Homo sapiens: one gene and its partner. The protein of the gene in region 2 interacts with the protein of the main gene of each other region in a biochemical or structural test. Each region holds a gene or a part of one and is shown on either strand. Other genes may lie near its edges.

What was found. The genes of interacting proteins can lie anywhere in the genome.
Region 1: the proteins of ITSN1 (region 2) and SNAP23 form a complex in vitro, tested with the Homo sapiens proteins (one study listed by BioGRID).

What each region holds. Positions count from the first base shown.
Region 1 is NC_000015.10:42,530,096-42,533,558, reverse strand, and holds the end of SNAP23 (synaptosomal-associated protein 23), read right to left. Parts: intron 2,147-3,463; coding exon 2,081-2,146; 3' UTR 501-2,080; downstream 1-500. UniProt on the Homo sapiens protein: Essential component of the high affinity receptor for the general membrane fusion machinery and an important regulator of transport vesicle docking and fusion.
Region 2 is NC_000021.9:33,883,501-33,887,000, reverse strand, and holds part of ITSN1 (intersectin-1), read right to left. Parts: intron 3,452-3,500; coding exon 3,330-3,451; intron 1,961-3,329; coding exon 1,878-1,960; intron 1,563-1,877; coding exon 1,479-1,562; intron 715-1,478; coding exon 541-714; intron 1-540. UniProt on the Homo sapiens protein: Adapter protein that provides a link between the endocytic membrane traffic and the actin assembly machinery. Acts as a guanine nucleotide exchange factor (GEF) for CDC42, and thereby stimulates actin nucleation mediated by WASL and the ARP2/3 complex.

The DNA of each region.
Region 1 (3,463 bases), on a different chromosome or scaffold from region 2:
TAAATGGTTTTAGGAAAGGCATTTAGGTAAAGCACAATCCTCCGTTTTACACCTTACTTTACATATTTACCATCCCTGCCAAACCACTCATTTTGACATGGAGCATTTCTATTACAGAGGGTGTAGTTGCATCTCACTTTATTTAAATATTTTCCTCTTTAGCCTTTGAAAGCTCCCACATTAACTGTATCTTCTCCAGTGAGTTGTAGTTCTCACACAGAACCATTACCCTTCCAGTCACTAGTGTATTTAAGCTCAAGTGAGTAAGACTAGTAATGATTAAAATGAACCTCACAATAAATTTTTAGCAAGGTAAGTTTAAGTCCCATCAATATTTTCAATAAATACTGGAAAGATGCTAAAGGCAGCTTCCTGCTGTAGTGTTTCTTGATGTATGGATCTTTGCTTTATTAATTTGTTAAATGAGAGCTGATGAAACTATTTTCCCCCAAATAACAGTCATAGAAACATGTTACCTATTTGAAAGAACAATACCATTAGTTAGTTAAAAAATTTAATTGTAAGGATCAAGCAGTGGTTATTGGTGAAACCAATACACACTGACAGCTTTGAAGTGTTCAGATGCTAATTTTAAAATAAATGTGACAAATACCAATCAGATGTTCATAACACTTTTCAGGATCCACATCAACTTGATTATGGACATAGTTCAATACACAAGGGTAAGAGAAAGAGTGTGTAATCACCAATAATTAAACCAGAGGCATAATTTTTTCAAATAATTTTTAGTTACAGAATAAATTCTAACTTTTTAAAGTCTAAAGCTACATAAAACTCAAAGCAATCTATTTTTCTACCTGAGGTCAAAATGACTTTCCTTTTTCCTAACTAAACATAATTCTTAGCATTGAGGTAAATCTGAATTCATGTGGTATGCTTTGTCAAACTTTTCCAAAAAATTTTAAGCCCTGCTTTAGAGAGAAATTCTCATGTTACACATATATATTTACATATTTTTTCTTCAAAGACTAATGACAATGTATGATGTTAATAGGCCTGTAATGGAACCATGATACTACTAATAATATGAAATAAAAAGCCACTCATTTATATAAAGTGTTCCTGAATGGTGCAATAAGAAATGGGATCACAGATTTATGTACATATATGAATCACTAAGAGTTCAGAAATTAAGCTCACTTTAAGAAAACTCAGCCAGGCACAGTGGCTCACGCCTGTAATCCCAGTACTTTGGGAGGCCAAGGCGGGTGGATCACGACGTCAGGAGTCCAAGACCAGCTTGACATGGTGAAACCCTGTCTCTACTAAAAATACAAAAATTAGCCGAGCGTGGTGACACACGCCTGTAATCCCAGCTACTCAGGAGGCAAGGCAGGAGAATTGCTTGAACCAGGGAGGCGGAGGTTGCAGTGAGCCCAGATCGCGCTATTGCACTCCAGCCTGGACAAGAGAGCGAGACTCTGACTCCAAAAAAAAAAAAAAGAAAGAAAACTCATTCTATTTTTCTCTTTGGAGCAGAGGTTGCAAAACTGTGATGCCTAACAAAAACGTTGTGTATAAAAGCTCCAAAACCAAGCATTAGCCTAAATTGGCTATAACTGCAACTTAAATCAAAAACTATATCCAACTAGATCTTCGTTGTGGCTATGCAACTTTTTGCTTTGTGGCCTGAAGGTTTTTACTGAGGTAACAACCTCTTATCTCTTGTCCTTCCCTCAACCACAAAAGCAAAAATAAACAACAACAAAAAACACCTCTACAGCTTCCTTCTTCATGGCTGTCTTTGGCAATGCTTCCAAATCTTGAAAGCAAAAGAACCTGCTGAAGTATATGAGGAGGATGAAAACACTAAACATGACATATGAAAACCAATCTAAGCGTATGAATTGAGAAAGAAAATACTAGAAGGAAGGCAGAGCAGCAGTCGGCCCTCAACAGAAAACAAAAAAGAAGGAGGGCTGTAACTGCTCTGGCCCTTCTTCCATATTATCTCCCAATTAGAAGAGCGTGGAACCGAAAACTTAAACTCTGAAAAGGTAATAACTTTCAAGGAGGAGCTACGGAAGTGAATAAATGATAAAGAAGAACAGCAGTAGCTTTAGCTGTCAATGAGTTTCTTTGCTCTGGCATTGGCAATATCAATACGATCTCTGTTGGTGTCAGCCTGAAAAACAAGAAAGATATCAGCTTTACAAGGTAAGTAACTCTAATAAAAATTAAACTTTTTACACTTGGAGTAACTGACACACCAAGAAAATCCAAGAAACCACGTGAAGTTACATTACAAAACTCATGTTGGGCAAGAAGTAACAGAATATGAAATTCATTTGGAAAACCCCTGGTATATAAACATGACAAAGGTGTAACATATAAGACCTTGCCAATATTTCATAAATTCTATAACGCATTTTTTCATAGTTTAACATGCCTGAAACTGGGATGCATCCTGTAATCAATGGCATTTTTTGATGCAATGAAATATGAAAGAGTGCTCTTCTCTGTTAAAGATCTGGACCTTGTGTGAGTCCTCTGAACTGAATCATAGAATCTCATCTGGATTCAGACACCCTAAGTCTAACCTGGAGAGACTGAAATAACCTTTCCAAAGATCTTTGAAACGAATCTATTACCATCCTCACCAACATCTGAATTAAAATGACAGGTAAATATAGCCTAAACCCAGACTGCAGCATTTAAAGCATCTTGTGAACCACTGTTTCAATTAAATCCATCAAAAGTGATTTAACAGAGAGCCAAGCTTAAAAACTCACCCTAAAGTTCACTGAGATTTTAATGAGGTATGACTTTCTTTTTTTCCTTTCTTTTTGAGAAAGGGTCTCACTCTGTTGCCCAGGCTGGAATGCAATGGTGCAATCACAGCTCACTGCAGCCTTCAACTCCTACACTCAAGCAATCCTTCTGCCTCAGCCTCCCGAGTAACTGGGACAATAGGCACATGCCACCATGCCTGGTCAATTTTTAAATTTTTTTAGTAGAGTCGAGGTCTTGCTCTGGTCTCAAACTCCTGAGCTCAAGCAATCCTCCTGCCTCCGCCTCTCAAAGTGTTGAGATTACAGGTGTGAGCTACCACGGTTGGCCAAGGTATGACTTTACATGTGACACATCAAAACACTGAAAACAATTTCGCTTTCACTATATTTATATCATGTAAAGTTAAGGGGGAAAAAAAAGAATCACAACTTTCTTTCACTCACATGACTCTATTTCGTGTGTCCACTCCATAAGAACTATTCTGCAGAACAGATTTTCACCTACGGACTCTTTCATGAGATGAGGATTCAGGAACTTAATTTATTTTTAGTTAACAAAATAGGCTGATGTGGGAGGAACGCTTTAGCCTAGGAGGCAGGCTGCAGTGAGCTGTGATTGTACCACCACACTACCCTAGGCGACAGAGCAAGACCCCATTCTCAATTAAAAAATTAGTTAACAAAATAAAACTCATTTGGGAGAGAAAAAA
Region 2 (3,500 bases):
TTCTTGGAATCATTGGGCTGAGACTATTCTTTTCCAGGCCCAAGCAGAAACAGAAGGCTGGCTGAAGAAATGATTCATTCAACATGACTGCATCCCTTTGCCTACTTAATAAGTGGTACAAAAATGCCACCCAAAGGGACCTGGCCCATTCTGCGGCTCCTGTTGTGGGCTAACATCCTTGTTCCATTGGCCAGTTTCATCCATTGCCAGCACAGCTTTTTGCCAAGGACTGAAGAACTATGCTGAGGCTCTTAAACACACCCCTCTCCACAGTCACCTGCTTTGGAAAGCAGAAGATGGACGTGTTTGCCCAGGGCAGCTGGCACAATTCTAGACCAAGCATGCTCTGTCCACATGCAATGAGACGCCTCCAGAAGACTCCTCCAGGGGAGACAGAGCCTCGTCTTGTGCCAGCCAGCCTCATCTCTCAGGAGGGAAACCGAAGGAATCCTGGCACCAAGTCCCCAGGTAAGAAAACATTAACCCACGCAAACGAGTGCCAGGGAAGGAGGAATAACCACAGGGCCGCGTTCCACTCACCATCTGGTGAGAACTGGTCCCTCTCGAACACAGTGATGCAGAGGACTTCCTGCTCCAGGTCTCGGATGAAGAACTGGCAGTTGGAATTCCACTTGGGGTTCAGAGTGTCCTGGATCGTCTTGGTGATGTGGCACTGGGAACCCATGGTCACCTCACAGTACGGGTTGCTCTTTCCTGGAGGGAACAAAAGCCTTCGCCAGGTGGAACTCACACCTCATTTTGATCTCCACTCTTTTTTTTTTTTTTTTTTAGATGGATTCTTGCTCTGTCGCCCAGGCTGCAGTGCAGTGGTATGATCTCAGCTCATTGCAACCTCCACCTCCTGAGCTCAAGTGATTCTCCTGCCTCAGTCTCCTGAATGAATAGCTGGTATTACAGGTGGCTGCCCCCATGCCTGGCTAATTTTTTATATTTTTAGTAAAGACGGGCTTTCACCATGTTGGCCAGGCTGGTCTCAAACTCCTGACCTCAGGTGATCCACCTGCTTTGGCCTCCCAAAGCACTGGGATTACAGGTGTGAGCCACCATGCCCGGCCGCTCCCCACTCTTAATAACTGCTATGCTTAATAAGTGTCATTCGGTGGAGAATCCGGGTGGAAACTCCCAGAAGTCAGCTTCATCCTTAAACTAAAAACAAATACTTAATTGAGTGGGCTTTGAAACTAGGCCCTTCCTGTCTCGTTACTTTGGCCTGATCTTGTGTCACATCCACTGTGAATGCAGCCACTCAGATCCCTCGGAGAAGCAGAATGGTAGAAAGGATGGAAAAAAAAACACAAAACCTCCAGGTTTTTAACAAGTGCTAGTTAAACCAATTCTGGAAGGAGATCAGGGAGTATGGAAATAGCACATTTGATCTAGAGCCAGGTGGGGGTGTGGGGAACCCGGACCCTACTCCCAACCCCAAAGCAGGAGCCGGGGGCGCCTCACAGCCTTACCATGTGACCGACAGGGTTTCAACTCGATGCCTTCAACCACGTTCACCATCAACCTTCCAATGCCTGTTGCCCTTTGGGAACGGACTATGACGGCAGGAAAAACACAAAATGCTTCATTTGAACGTGCCACACCTTTCCCATCTCTGTGAGCCTCACAATGCATTTCATGTACCTCTCCCGACTCAAAAGTAATTCTTCCCTCTCCTTAAACACTTGCTTCCTTGCTCCTGGAATTTGCCCTCCATCCCCATCTGCATCCCACCCCAAGCTCACTTCCATCTCATTCCATGCCCCTCCTCTAGGTCCAGGGGATTCTTCTATTCTGAGGATTTTCAGCCCAGCCAAATGGCCCTCCCTCCTGCCCAGCTGTGCAGGACACCCCGCGGGGCCATGCATTACCCAGGTACGCTTTCTCGCGCTTCTTTTTCTCAGTCTCTATGTAGAGTTCAGAAGCAGCTTTGATTTTCTGCACCCAGGCAGTCCTTGGACAGAAAAAGACAGAAAGTTGCCAAACAGAAACTCAGGAAAAAGGCTTCAGGTCTGTTCAAACACTGTTGCCAGGACTCTGTTTCTTTGTTCATTTGATTTTAACAACAAAGGCTCGGGAAAGAAAATCTGATTTTATGTCACGTGACGCTAATACTTATTCCTGCCATCGATAAGAAAGGCATGAGGGCCATTTCCATGGATGTCCTCAAGACCTGCGATGATGTCCCCGGGGAAGAAAATCTGTGATAGATGCTGTCTTGGAGGCAACATCGGGACACGACTCCTCTTCCTTCCTTACCGAAGAGCAGCACATATTTGCCTAATCCAACAAAGCCAGAAGGATCTCGCTTATGAAATCACGCAAAGAAAGAACAAAAACCACTTCCCAGATTGGGAACCACTTCACACGAAAGACCAAAACGCCTTGGGGGAAGGCATTTGTGGCCGCGGTTTTCTCCTTCATTTTTTCTGAGAACCATATGCACAAAAGCTTTAGCCAATTTTCTTGCTTGGTGCAAATGCTCTTTGGAATGATGCTGGCCTTGTGTCAAGTTCACCCTTCAGAAAATGATCTATTTCATTTGGCTCCAGGGCAGTGTCTTGAAGACAGATTGAAGCAAAATACCCACAGCCCTAGGTTCCAGAATGCCCATTTAAGTCAGCCAAGGTGAGGAGAGGTTTGGGTTTGCGTGGTCCTATTAACCCCGAAATTACTTTCCTATTGGTTTCTGCCACCTGGGAAGCCAGGGGAAACCTGAGATGCTCTGTTTACCTCAAAGAATGCGAAACATTTCTTAATAAAACAACAACAACAACAACAACAATGCCAGGTGCAGTGGCTCACCCCTGTAATCCCAGAATTCTGGCATTCTGGGAGGCCAAGGCGGGTGGATCCCTTGAGCCCAGGAGTTTAAGACCAGCCTGGGCAACATGGCAAGAACCCATCTCTACAAAAAAATATAAAGAATTAGCCAGGCTTGGTAGCACATGCCTGTAGTCCCACATACCTGGGAGGCTAGGGTGGGAGGATTACCTGAGCCCAGGAGGTTAAGGCTGCAGTGAGCTGTGACTGCACTACTGCACTCCAGCCTGGGTGACAGAGTGAGACTCTGCCTTAAAAAAAAAAAAAAAAAAAAAAACTCAAGCAAAATTAGTTTGAATCCATGTTATTTTGGAAAGGGCATGCCATGTGACAGATTTTTGAGAGGCTGTAGAAAAAAGTAATAGCCCCATCCCCACTCCCAGCTAGGGGTGATGGCATTGCCACTTGGGAAACATTGGCACCTGATTAATCACCCGCCCCTTGTGTGTCCTAGAGCCGTGGAGCCCTGGGGCCCATGCTGGGGAGGCGGCAGGTCTCACCTTTCATTTATGCTTTCTGCTCGGAGAGTATAGACGCGGTCAATGTGGGAGATGTGGAAGATGGGCTCGTCTCCAGAAGGGTCGGTGGGTAATTTTACTAGAACCTCATTTAGGAAAATAGGCTGGAAAGTAACACACAGGCATTACAAAGCGAGGCTGGGGGTCTGTGTG